Homo sapiens: one gene and its partner. The protein of the gene in region 1 binds, or shares a complex with, the protein of each later gene. Each region holds a gene or a part of one and is shown on either strand. Other genes may lie near its edges.

Evidence for each region. The genes of interacting proteins can lie anywhere in the genome.
Region 2: the proteins of PTPN7 (region 1) and MAPK1 are in contact, whole or in part, in a crystal structure (PDB 3D42), measured with the Homo sapiens proteins. Residues at the interface, in NP_001351807.1 of Homo sapiens: Arg124, Tyr125, Lys126, Ile128, Asp257, His258, Ser292, Ala293, Gly294, Ile295, Gly296, Arg297, Gln335; in NP_002736.3 of Homo sapiens: Thr185, Glu186, Tyr187, Val188.

The regions. Positions count from the first base shown.
Region 1 is NC_000001.11:202,150,597-202,157,621, forward strand, and holds part of PTPN7 (tyrosine-protein phosphatase non-receptor type 7), read right to left. Parts: intron 5,014-7,025; coding exon 4,937-5,013; intron 3,728-4,936; coding exon 3,590-3,727; intron 3,255-3,589; coding exon of another isoform or gene 3,240-3,254; coding exon 3,129-3,239; intron 2,104-3,128; coding exon 1,946-2,103; intron 1-1,945. UniProt on the Homo sapiens protein: Protein phosphatase that acts preferentially on tyrosine-phosphorylated MAPK1. Plays a role in the regulation of T and B-lymphocyte development and signal transduction.
Region 2 is NC_000022.11:21,857,646-21,864,670, forward strand, and holds part of MAPK1 (mitogen-activated protein kinase 1), read right to left. Parts: intron 1-7,025. UniProt on the Homo sapiens protein: Serine/threonine kinase which acts as an essential component of the MAP kinase signal transduction pathway. MAPK1/ERK2 and MAPK3/ERK1 are the 2 MAPKs which play an important role in the MAPK/ERK cascade.

The DNA of each region.
Region 1 (7,025 bases):
TGCTGGAGGCAGGTTTTAATTGGCATGGGAGGAGTTTACATTTCTTACCAGCCTTACTGTAAGCCTGTTGCAGGCCACCTTTTGGTCCCTGTGGACATTTTGACGATCTCCCTTCTGCTGAGTCTACAGTGGTTTCCAACAGACAGTTTCCCACTTGTGGGTGTGCTGACCCTCGAGCCCTCCTTATCTAACCTTGACTTCCTCTCAGCTCAGACTCATCTTCCACGCAGCCCACGCCCGGCCCCTCTGTTTCCCACCTTGGCGCCCTCCCACAGTCTTCTCTCCACTCTGTTCTGCTTTCTCTATCGTGCCCTCTCTTTATTTCAAAACCCCCTAGGCCTCCCCTTCCTCTTGCGTGAGCCCCTAATGACCTCCCTGCACATGTCCCAGTGCTACCTGTGGGTGGGCTGGGAGGCCCCTGTGTCATGCCTTTTGCCTCTGTGCTCTGTTTTATTTAGGATATGCACTCCCAAATGGTCCCTTTCTTTAGTCTTGTCCCCTACGACACCCCCTCACTCTGGCCCAATCCATTTTTCACTCTATAGCCAAAGTGTTCTTTTAAAATGGCAAATCCAAGTGTCTTAGCCAGTCCTCCAAGTCCCCTCATCATCTGACCTTCACTGGCCTTCCAAACCCATCTCTCATCATTACCCCACACACAACCTCTGGGCCTAACCTGTAACCCTGCTCCCAGCAGTGTATCCATTTTCACATTTCTTCTCTGGGCCTTAGCATGTGCTCTTCCACTTGCCTGGAACGTGTTCCCTTCCCTCTCTTCACTTGGCTAATTCACCTTTCAGGTCTTAGCTTGGCTTAGATGGCCTTTCTCTTGGAAAACTTTCTCTGGTCAAAGTCTGGTTTAGGAGACTTGGTTCTATGGTCCCCATAATATCCCCATCACAGCTCTCATCACATTGCGTGGTATTTAATTTTTTTTTGAGACAGAGTTTTGCTCTTGTTGCCCAACCTGGAATGCCATGGTGCGATCTCAGCTCACCACAACCTCCACCTCCTGGGTTCAAGCAATTCTCCTGCCTCAGCCTCCCGAGTAACTGGGATTACAGGCATGCGCCACCATGTGTGGCTAATTTTGTATTTTTAGTAGAGACAGGGTTTCTCCATGTTGGTCAGGCTGGTCTTGAACTCCCGACCTCAGGTGATCCTCCCGCCTCAGCCTCCCAAAGTGCTGAGATTATAAGCATGAGCCACTGCACCCAGCCTAATCTGCCTTCTTTCCCACCAGCCTATAAAACTGTCTGGGAAGAAACCAAACTGCTTGGTTCATAGCTGTCTCCTTAGCAGCTAACACCGTGCCTGACAAAAATAGGTTTTCCTTTTTTGAGATGGAGTCTCGCTCTGTCACCCAGGCTGGAGTGCAGTGGTGTGATCTCGGCTCACTGCCTCCAGAGTTTGAGCAATTCTCCTGCCTCAGCCTCCCAAGTAGCTGGGATTACAAGTGTGTGCTACCACGCCTGGCTAATTTTTGTATTTTTTAGTAGAGACAGGTTTTCACCATGTTGGCCAGGCTGGTCTCAAACTCCTGACCTCAGGTGATCTGCCAGCCCTGGCGTCCCAAAGTGCTGGGATTATAGGTGTGAACCACCGTGCCCGGCCAATAATAGGATTTTCAATACATATTTGTTGAATAAGTAAATGAGTTCCCCAACAGCTGGAATCCTGTTTATGTCCTCCTGCAGCTGACTGGGATCTTCCTGATATTCCATCCCCTCTATGGATGGGGCCTGGGTGTCCAGCCCAGATGTCTGGGTTCTGCGTGAAGGAGGTAAAAAGAACAGAGCCCTTGCTGAATGGCCTTGCGAGTCATGTCTGAGTAAGGACTAGGCTTGCCTGATGCTTTTCTGCTCAGACCCTTCCCCAGGAGAGACCCAGGGGGCAGGGGAGGGGAGCACAGTCCACAGGCTGCAGTGAAGGGAGGGCCACGCACCTGCAGTGGACTACGATAGGCCCGGGGTGGGCGGCTGTCTCCGGGCTCTCCTCCACCTCTGCCACTAGGCGCAGCAGGGGCCCAGCTGATTCTGGTGTCTGATGGTCTGGCCAGGCCGAAAAGAGGATGTGCTTTACTGACCGGCGCTCTTCCTGGTACTGGATTGGAGACAAGGCATGAGAACCAAGGTCAGGGTGGAGGGCACTGTCTACCTTCTTCTCTGGTGCCTGAGGAGGGCAAGGGCTGGAATTACCCTGTGGGGGGGTCATCTACTCAAAGCAAGCTAGGTTGCAATTTTCGTGCTCATTGTTCTCCACCACTTCCCCCTTCAAAATCCCGGGAAGGAGCATTGTCCTGGGAGAGGGGAGAGACCCAAATTCAAGCCCTGGCTCTGCTTCCCATAAGCACATGACTTTGGGCAAGTCCCTTGATCTCATTTTCTTCACCTGGAAAATGGGAACAGTGATATCTTACTGGTTTACTTGCCAGGATATTTGGAGGAGAATGAGTTGATAGAGGAATGCTTTCAAAAATATAAAACACCATAAAATAATAGAAGGCATTTTAAAAGCCCTTGTGTACATGTTATTCCACATCTCTTTCTCTTTTTTTGTTTTATTTTGTTTGTTTTTTTTTGAGACAGACAGTCTCACTCCGTCACCCAGGCTGGAGTGCAGTAGCACAATCTTGGCTCACTGCAACCTCTGCCTCCTGGGTTCAAGTGATTCTCCTGTCTTAGCCTTCCAAACAGCTGTAATTTTTAGTACAGACAAGGTTTCACCATGTTGGCCAGGCTGGTCTGGAACTCCTGACCTCAAGTGATCCGCCCCCCTCAGCCTCCCAAAGTGTTGGGATTACAGGCATGAGCCGCCACACCTGGCCTTCCACATCTCCTTTAACCTCCTCTCCTTCCCTTGGCCCTGCTCCTGGATCCTGCCTGTCCCCGCCTGACCATTTACACAGATGGGTGAGTACTTCCCGGTAGTCCTATTTGGCTTATTGGCTCTGCCCTATTAGACTAGAGGCTGAGGACAGTGCTCAAGTTTCTCTTTCTGCTATAGATGTGGGTTTAAGATGGTTTAGAAGAGCAAACCCTTGGCTCCTAGTGAAGAGCCAGCCTGAGTCCCAGAGATGCTGTGGGCGGCCCAACTTCCCACTGGGCCTGGCTCCGGGGGGGTGGTACCTGGATGGTGAGCTGCCGCACAGTGTATTCTGGGCACTCTTTCATGTCCTGGATGCGGATCTGGAAGGGTCCATAGGTTTCCTCTTCTGTGGGCCAGTAGTGGACACATTTCTAGGAGGGAGGGAGCTGGGAGTCAGAAGAGGGTCAGCTGGAGCAGGTGACAGGGCAGCAGAGAGGGGCTGGTATCTCCTCCCCATCCTCCACCCCTACTGGATGGGAGGTCAGCAACAGGGAGCCTGGCTCTTCTGAGCTTGATACCTGCAAGCAGAGTGCTCACCCTATCCCGTATTTTGGCCATAGACAGCCTCCCAGGGCTATATCTCAGGGAACTTTCTGAGAGGTATGAGCTGGGGCTGGCTCCCAGGGAAACCTCTGGTTCTGAGCTGCCCTGTGTGTGGGGTGGGGGTGGGGTGGGCATAGCACTTTCTGGGTTCATCATGAACTGTGGCTCTGCCTCCTACCTCCTTGCCCTCTCGGAGCTGAGTGAGCATGACAATGAGGGACACTTCCTCTTGCCACACCATCTCCCAGAAGTCCGACACAGTGTTGGGCATGGGGCCCTGGGTGGCAATGTAGACCTTCTCCTTCCCGTCATAGCCCTGGAAGGTGGAAGCACAGGGGAAGGGGTGGGGAGCAGTGAGAGCAGAGCTCTGGGGAGATCCTAGATGCCTCAGGTGCTGGGGTCAGCCTGAAGCTGTGAACCACACGTGTAGACGTACACATGCACGAACACGCACACTCAGAAGCCACATGATGGAAAGGATACGGGTTCTGGAATGAGGATCAGATCCCTGTTCTGCTGTTTCCTGGCTGTACCACTATAAGCCAGTTACCTAGCCTCCGTAAGCCTCAGTGGTATCATCTGTAAATTGGGCATAATAATATCTATCTTGTAGGAATGTAGAGTGGATTAAATTCAGTAAGATATATTGAGAGTCTAGCCGATAGCAAGTGCTCTATAAATGTTTATTCCCTTCCTCCCCTGCTGCTTTCTTCTAGCACAAAATACCTAAACAGTGTTTAATATTTGTTCAGTGACAGTTTCACATTTACAGGTTACTACTTTTCTATGAAAGTAGTAGCAAAATGTAGCACACTCTCCCTAACCTGATTTTCTCACCTTCAGGATCCTCAGCTTCCTGCTTCTCAAGATGGTGAAATCCAGACTGCAGTTGATCCGGTATTGGCCGGCAAATGTAAGATCATGTTTCCCCATGGCTTCCCTAGCTAAGAGCTTTTCGCCTCCCTGCGCCCCTGACTGATGTCTTACCCACATTGAGTCACTAGAGAGCGCTGCTTTTACATCTCCTTAGGGCCCACAGCAGCGAGAAGCTGGCGTGGAACACCCACCTGGCCTGGAGCTTCCTATAGCTTGACGTCAATCAACCATCTTCATATAAGAGGGGCTATCTGAGGGGCAGTTAAGGTAAGTTGGCGGGGAGGTCCCATTAGTGCTGGCATCACCTATGCAGTTCTCGGGAGCTGTGAGCTCTTAAGCAGCTGGAGATTGGGTTCAACAATGCTAACTTCCTGCTAAGTTTAGAGGGTGGCATGGGAGGACTGATAGTGGAGGTTAGGGAGACTTGGTGGTCTCTCCAGATATTTTTCAACATCTGCTCCGTTTTTTAGGTTGGTGTTTTGGGGCATGTTCAGTACCAGCCCAGCTTGGTAGGGCTATGACAGCAGTGAGCTGGAGCAGGGAGGGTAGGAAATGCAGGCACCTGATCCACCAGCCATGGCTGGAAGATATTCTCAGACGTCTGAGAATTCCCCCATTCCCCGCCCACCACTGCAGCCAGGCCACTCACTCGGATGTAGTTGGCATTGATGTAATCTCCGTCCTCCTGGCTCTGTGCCCGGCCTAGACAGACACGGCTCTGGGGATCTAGGAAATAAAAATCAGCAGAGGTCAGAGGTCAGAAGGTGACCAACTAACACAGACTCAAGCAGGGTCAGAAAGAGGAGAGTTCCTGTGCTCATCACAGTCATAGCACCTTGTGTATAGCAGGTGGCCTTACACCCACTGAAGTTGTTGTTTTTGTTGTTGTTTTTAGAGACAGGGTCTCATTCTGTTGCCTAGGCTGGAGTGCAGTGGTGCGATCATAGCTCACTGTAACCTCTAACTCTTGGGCTCAAGTGATACTTTTGTCTCAGCCTTTGACATAGCTGGGACTATAGGCAAATGCCACCACACCTGGCTTGCTTATTTATTTATTTATTTACGTTTTTTGTAGAGATTGGGTTTCACTTTGTTGCCCAAGCTGGTCTTGAATTTCTGACTTCAAGCAATTCTCCCACCTCAACCTCCCAAAGTGCTGAGATTACATGTGTGAGCCACCATGTCTGGCCCCTATTGAAGTATTTTATACGCAGACAGTAGGAAGCTGTATAATGTTTTTGAGCAGGAGAGTGACATGATCAAAACAATAGTTTGGGAAGATTAACTGAGTGGTGCTGTATAGGATGGACTAGAGAAGAAAGGGAACGGAACAGCAGAGACCAAATGGGAAGATACAATATTAGATATAATATTCTAATAGATACAGTATTCTATCCTTGAGATCAGTACAGGTTTAGAACAAGATTATGCCACTAGGGATGGAAAAAGAGATGTAGAGGAAGAAGAATTTGTTTTCTAATGGTGAATATGGGATTCACATGAGCAACTTGCCAGATATCACATAGCTGTGAAGTGGGACTAGGACTCAGATTCCGCTCAGCCACGAGGCATTTGGCCTCTGCCTCTAAGGGGGAAGGATTTCTCTAAATGAAACCCAAACATGGATGAAGAAGCTGGCTTGTGAGGAAAGGAGAAGAGACTCTCGCTCTGCTCATGCCAGCCTGGTCATGGACAGAAGGTACCCTGGGGACCAGGGGAATCTCAGGCAAAGGAATTTTTCCCTTTTCTGGTGGCTGCAGGGCTGATTAGAATTAGGCCAAGAACAAGGGCTACTCCTCCCCCTGGCCTGGAATAGCGCTAATAGCACCTTGATCCGCCCATGCAGGCAGAGGACACTCCAGGAGGGTTAGCAGGAGACAGGGCCCGAGTGCTCACTGAGCTAAAGCCTCAAGCTGGGAGTAGCTTCCCTGTAGGGAGAGCAGGGGAGGGAGGGAGAGGCTCCGGGGCCTCATGCCTGCCTCCGAAAAATAGAAGGTGCTTGCTCCGGGTCTGCCAGTTTGCAGGGTCACCCCCTCCTAGCACAGTGTCCTCCCTCCCCGCCTCCACTGCTCTCTTGCTGGCCGTTGCCCTGTCTCCATCTGACTTTCTCAAAGCCATCTCTCTGGGAGCCCTCCTGGTGGTGCTTCCTTCACTGCAAGCCTTGGCTGGGCATTTCCCATGCAAGAGGAAGACAGGGAAAGGGGCTTGGTGCAAGTAGCTAAGTTGAATATCTTAGGTAAGATATTCAACTTCTCTGTGCCTTAGTTTCCTCACTTGTAAAATGGTCATCACAGTACCAACTTCATGGGATTGTTGTGAGAAATGAGTGAATATAAAGGATTGAGGCTGGACGCGGTGGCTTACGCCTGTAATCCCAGCACTTTGGGAGGCCGAGGTGGGCGGATCACCTGAGGTCGGGAGTTCGAGACCAGCCTGACCAACATGGAGAAACCCCACCTCTGCTAAAAATACAAAATTAGCCACGCATGGAGGCGCATGCCTGTAATCCCAGCTACTCGGGAGGCTGAGGCAGGAGAATCGCTTGAACCCGGGAGGCGGAGGTTGCAGTGAGCCCAGATTGCGCCATTGCACTCCAGCCTGGGTGACGAGAGTGAAAACTCCGTCTTAAAAAAAAAAAAAAGGATTGAGAACAGGGCCTGGCCCAGGGTACATATCTGCAAACATTATTATTGCTGCTGTTGTGATTCTTGCTCCTTCTTCCCCCTTTCTCTGCTGAG
Region 2 (7,025 bases), on another chromosome or scaffold:
TACATAGAGACCGAGACAAAGGGGGATTCACATCTTGTCAACCCTGTTTACTTCAAAGGAATAACAGAGCATTAACTAGGTACCAAGTGCTCAGGACTTCAAGTATACTGTTTTATTTAATACTCATGACAATCCTTTGACCCCTTACTTGTGACTGGCAAGTTACCCAACTTTTGTTTCATTTTCCTCATCTGTAAAAACCGGAGAGTGATACACACTCCCTGGAGAATGACAGGGAAAACAGTACCAAGAACTTTAACCTAACAAGTCAGAAATCAATGAGACCCCTTTTGACAATTCCCACCTTGCCCTTTAGACATTCCGAGATATGCAGCTTTATTTAATAAATGACCCCACCTTGGGCCTCAGCTGACTAGACCAGAGGCAGACACTCTCCCAGGCTGGAAAGGCCAGGTGGAGTGAGCTGTTCTGTGCAGAATGATCTCCCTAACAGTGTTTTTACACATTCTGTTCCACTTGGAATTGGATTCAGAGTGTTCTCAGCCTCTGGTCATCAAAAAACCTGAAGACACATACCTTCAGGGAGCTAGGGTCAGCTCTCCTCTGCTGAGTGCATGGGGAAGTGACAAAAGAGAAAAGAGGGGGGAAAATCCAGCTGCTGAGAGATGTAGGGTACAAGAAGCTTTTGTAACTGTAAAGAGGGAGGGAGGTAGCTACGTTGGTCTATTTTCCAGTTCCTGGTTCCAACTATACCTAAAGCTTTAACTGCACTTTCTATCCTTGCAGTAATATGACAAAGGCCCCCAGATCTTAATCATAAACTTTTCATTTTCTATAATGCAGTCTCTACAAAGTAGTGCCTAAAACATTCCAGCACTCTACCCTACCTTTTACCCAGCTAGCTCTAAGTCTTCCTTCAGGTCCCAGCTTAAACACCACTTCCTCCCGGAAACCCTTCATGACTACTCAGAATATCTTATATCATCCAGTGGCACTCCACACCTCACCATACTCAGTAAATGTTATTACTGCCCTGTTGGACTGTAAACACCAAAGAGTAAGAACAACTTTTGTTCACTACTTTGTTCCTACTGCCTAGCACATAATCCGGTACGTGTTTAATAATATTAAATGAATGAAAATCAAGAAACTGGTAGAGGTAACTAGAAGGAATGGGAAGAAATCAATACTGCTTCCTGATAAAAATTAAGTTGCTAGATGACAGATCCTTTGGAGATAAAGAAAAAACAAAAACAAAAAACAAAGTTACTTTAACTCTAATCCTTTCTAGCCTCTTCTTCAGGTCTGTCTGCAATGGCATAATCATTTTATACTTTAGGGCTAATCCATTCAGGAACCCAGGCTGTAGGAAGTACGTTTCTAGGTAACTCGGTATAACAGAGAAAAGCCTATAGTAGTTAAAAGAAAAAAGGTCACAGGATTTGGGGTCTGCATAAATCTCAATTTACATCTCAGTTCTGCAATATACTTACTGGCTGTGAACCCTGAACGAGTTACCTGACACCCAGTTCCCTTATGTGTAAAGTGCAAAATATAATACCTCAAAGACAAGGATGACGGTCAGGCGCGGTGGCTCACACCTGTAATCCCAGCACTCTGGGAGGCTGAGGCGAATGGATCACGAGGTCAGGAGTTCAAGACCAGCCTGGGCAACAGGGTGAAAGCCCATCTCTACTAAAAACTACAAAAAAAAAAAAAAACTTAGCCAGGTACAGTGGCAGGCACCTGTAATCCTAGCTACTCAGGAGGCTGAGACAGGAGAACTGCTTGAACCTGGGGGCAGAGGTTGCAGTGAGCCAAGATCGCGCCACTGCACTCCAGCCTGGGCAACAGAGTGAGACTCTGTCTCAAAAAAAAAAAAAAAAAAAAAGACAAGAATGAGAATGAAGCTTAAACCAGCAAGGCAGGCTTGCAACTAACATTAGTCAGTTGATCATGGCATATTATCCATGCAGACACCTGCTATCCAGCTCCTACTGGCCATAGGTTCAAACCCCAGGGCCTGCCTTGAGTCTGAGAATCTGGGAGGGACCTTGGAGACCATCTATCCTGTGGGTTGCCCAACATCATTTTCAAAGCAATCAAATCCTTTTTCCAAATGGGATCTTGCCCTGCTAACCCTAATAGTTACTACCTATGTGAACTGAAGATGATAATGACTAAAAGGAAATTAAGAAAAAGAAAAAAGACTAAGGGCAGAGGAAGAAGGGAAACGGGAGGGGAAGGAGGTAGATAAGAGAAGAGCAAAGAATAGAAAAAACAGGGATTAGGGGAGAGAATGCTGTATGTGAAGTTTCCCTATTTGGGGTGAGGCCTGAAGCCCCTAAGAGAGGAGGAGATTTGAAAACCACAGACAGAGCCCAGTCCTTTCATGTTATAGCAGGGGAAATAGAAACACATAAATTTTGTTCAGCTGCCTATAGCTTTCTCCTCCTGTGGTTCTGCTCAGTTTCCAGAAAGCCTGGGTAACGTCTGAATCCTCCTGGAATCTCTCTTCTTCCTTCTGGTACGGTGTGGGCCATTTCAAAGCTCAGGCAGGTGGCCTTTCCTAGAGGGAGCAGAGACAGCGCAGCTACTGGATGAGCTCCTAGGCACCTTTCAGTGTGGGAGCCTCAAGAAGTGAAAGAAAAAAAGCAAATCTAAAGGGGAGCAAAATAGCATCTCAGGATTAGGCAAGAGGGTGGGTGGAGTAGGCCGGAGGCAAGGAGCTCTAGATGTTTGTTGGGGAATGAGGTGTTTTTCAATTAATAGGTATATAAATTGTGAGCAAGGTGAGGAATAAATTACATACAGTTTTGGGGAAAAGTCAACTTGAATTTACACAAATCAGATTATGGGAATGGTGTAATGGTTATAGCTAACTACCAGGAATACATCATTAGGGATGCTATTAATATAAAAATTAATTTTGTTTTGACTTATCCTTTTACTCTAAACTCTGCTCAGAAACACTAGATTCTTCTGTTACTCATGTAAGCTGCTGTCCTTGCATCTTTGAGCTCCAAAAGTGTAGAGGAGACTTCTTGATTAAAAAAGTTAAGTAAACAATGAGCAAGCAAAATTAAGAATCTCAATATCTCTGTCTCCAGGTCTAGAGTTTTTATATATGATATATGTTATTGCTGTTCCTGCCTTTCAAACAGGTGGTACAAACACCCAGCAGAGATCCATGAAGAGAGTGCATTAACAGGAAGCAATAGGGCAAAGTTCATAGAGATGAGCTTTAGAGAAAAGCGGGACTTAAATAGAGCCTGATGTTTCTTGGGGCAGGCTGGGGTGCTGTACTATGGGCATCTTGGCAGGATGATTCTCCAGTGGAGGGAGTGTACCGTGCAATCCAGACCATTTAGCATGTCTGCCCTTGACATGCCTACTGACGGCCAATAACACCCCCTAATCAACGTGACAACACAACAAAAAGCCGCCCCCCTATACATTTCCAAATGCCTCTGTAGCAGGGAGGTAAAATCACCCCCACTGAGTACCACGAGATAAAGTAGGCACAATGCGGCCAGGTGCAATGGCTCACGCCTGTAATCCCAGCACTTTGGGAGGCCGAGGCAGGTGGATCACCTGAGGTCAGGAGTTTGAGACCAGCCTGGACAACATGGCGAAATCCTGTCTCTACTAAAAATACAAAAATTAGCCAGGCATGGTAGCACACACCTGTAATCCCAGCCACTCAGGAGGCTGAGGCAGAATTGCTTGAACCCAGGAGGCAAGGTTGCAGTGAGCCTCCAAGCAAAACTCTGTCTCAAAAAAAAAGTAAGTAAGTAGGCAAAATGGGCAGAAAGCATAAGAGATAAAGTGGGAGTGGAACTGGCAGACAGAAACAGGGCCATCCTTTAATGACTCCGTCACCCACAAGATCAAGTCCAAAGTCCTTACCAAATAATGCCCTTCAGGATTTGGCCCTGCCTACCCCCAGCTGTCTCAACTCCCACCTTCTTACTAAGGCACCCTACACTCCAGCCTTCCCAAGTAATTTGTGGTTTTCCTGACCTGATGCACTGTGTTCACGGTCTGTGCCTTTACATGCACACTTCGCTTTGCCTAGAAGGCATTTCTCAAGGCAAACTCCTACTCACACATCAACACCTAGCTCAGAAGTCTGGGAAGCCAAAGAAAGACAGCCCCAAGTCACTCAGCTCTTCTCTTCCTCTCAGCACTTCACAAACTCCTGGGTAACACTGGTATCTTCTCTGTATTATTCCCCAATTCCATCCCATTATTTGGATGAAGAGTTCAATAAACATTTTCTGAGTAAATAACTCTACATGAAAGGTTTTAAAGGCTAAAAAGTGATACAAGCAAAAGCAGACAACAGATATTTCTTGTTACTGAAATAATCTATTTTCTCAACTCTGATCTTTGGTGGAGCACTACTTAGGAACCAGAAAAACTGGGGTTGCTTCATCACTTCCTAGCTGTGTGTCATTGGGCAAGTTAACTAACCTCTGTGTGCCTCAAGTTTCTTCACTTGTGGGGTAAAAAACAAACAGAAGTTACCACTTTTGCTGTACAGTTATATGGCTTAGCATTAATGTATGTAAAATACAAAACAAGAGTGCTGAAAAAGTGGTAGTTCTACTAGTCTGCTATAATCACAATAACCTTAACAAGACAGGAGGACATTGTACCATCAGGAATGTGATCACAATGAAATTTTAGTTGAAACCATCCCCCTCTTTTTTCTTTTATTCATTCAGCTTTCCCAAGTTGAACATCCCCGCTTTAAAAAAAAAAAAAAAGAGGCCAGGCACAGTGGTTCACACTGTAATCCTAGCACTTTGGGAGGCTGAAGCAGGGGGATCACCTGAGGTCAGGAGTTTGAGACCAGCCTGGCCAACATGGCAATACCCCGTCTCTACTAAAAATAAAAAAATTAGCCGGGTGTGGTGGCACACACCTGTAATCCTAGCTACTCGGGAGGCTGAGGCAAGAGAATCACTTGAACCCAGGAGGCGGAGGTTGCAGTGAGCCGAGATTGTGCAACTGCACTCCAGCCTGGGCGACAGAACAAGACTCTGTCTCAAAAAAAAAAAGAGCTGAAAGTCAACAAATATAATGGCTTGTCAGCTGCATTCTGTTTCCCTCCTATAGTACTCAATACCAATCCCTTAATGAGTACCATCTCCCTTGGCTCCTTTGATAACGTGCACTCCCAGTTCTTTGGTCTCTCTGGCCACATTTCCTCTGTCCTCTTCCATAACTTGACCTTTATTGACACAGTAAAGGCAGGCACTCCTTTGGCTTAGTTCTCAGATGTCTTATCCACTCTTAAGGCTTCAATTAATATCTCTATGAAGATGACCCCATGAGCTCTCTTGTCGCATTCAGAAACAGCATTTCAAACTCAATTAAACCAAAATAGACACTTGCTATCTTAGTCTAAGATGACCAAGCATACTAAGAGTGTTTCAATCTCTCCTCCTCTCCCTCCTCCCCGTCTACACTGTTCCCTTATACATCTGACCAGTCATCAGTTTCCTCTTCTTTGCCAGAGTTACCTGGTTGGTCCTCTGTTCTACTTCAGTGGTTCTTAATGTTTCCAGGATAATGGACTCATTTGAAAATCTATCAAATGCTATGTATTTTTTAACCAAAAAGATAAATATAGAAAACATATAATTACAATTTCTTTTTTTTTTTTTTTTGAGACCCAGTCTTGCTCTGTCACCCAGGCTGGAGTACAGTGGCGCGATCTTGGCTCACTGCAAGCTCTGCCTCCCGGGTTCACACCATTCTCCTGCCTCAGCCTCCCCAGCAGCTGAGACTACAGGCGCACACCGCCACGGCCGGCTACTTTTTTTTTTTGTATTTTTAGTAGAGATAGGGTTTCACCATGTTAGCCAGGATGGTCTCGATCTCCTAACCTCGTGATCCGCCCACCTGGGCCTCCCAAAGTGCTGGGATTATAGGCGTGAGCCACCGCGCCTGGCCATGATTGCAATTTCACCTAACCAATGACCCAGATAAGAATCTGTGCTCATCCACTCAAGATTTTAACTACCATTTACACAAATTTTCATCTCCAGCTCCTGCTCCCCTCTTACAAATTTTAAGATGGTTTCTGGATATAGCCTGAATGGCCTACAGGCATTACAAACTTAAGTTCAAACCAGAACTATTTCCCCCTGACAAATCTGCTCTAACAGTATTCCTTTACTTGGATAATGGCACCACCATCTCCCAGGCTCCCAACCTAGAGGCCTCAGAATGAACAACCGCCCATAGCCAATCAACCAGCAAGCCTTGTTCTATCTCAGAAATCCCTCCAAATCCAAATCCCACCTCTCTTGGTCTCTTACCCTTTAAGGTCTCATAATCCTTTGATTCCACTCAGACTTGCCATGATTAAAAGTCTTTTTACCACTCTTCCCACAAGGGTCCCTGTTACTATTTCTGTCAATACAAAACTCCTCACCTCCATCTGCTACCTTCCGCTGCCACTTTATTACTGCACCTCTAGGTGGTTAGGCTTTCCTAATTTATTCCTCCACTCCGGTTCTTCTTCCTTCATTCCCACTAGTGTTGATTTGTCTTCCCAAAAAATTTCAAAATTGACCATGTATGACTGCCTCTTTCAAAAAAAGGCCGGGCACGGTGACTAAAGCCTGTAATCACAGCACTTTGGGAGGCTGAAGTCAGGGGGACCACCTGAGGTCAGGAGTTTGAGACCATCTTGGCCAACATGGCAAAACGCTGTCTCTACAAAAATACAAAAAAAAAATTAGCTGAGCATGGTGGCACGCGCCTGTAGTCCCAGCTACTCAGGAGGCTGAGGCAGGAGAATCGCTTGAACCTAGGAGGCAGAGGTTGCAGTGAGCCGAGGTCATGCCACTGCACTACAGCCTAGGCAACAAGAGTGAGACTCCACCTCAAAAAAAAAAATAAACAAATAAATAAATAAATAAGATGCTTCCTCCACTGAACAAATATACAGTCAAACTTAGTTTTGCCTTTGGAGTCCTCTACAGTTTGCCACCTAAGTACATTTCCAAGATTAGATTCCACAGCTCAAGCTGTCACTTGTTCCTATT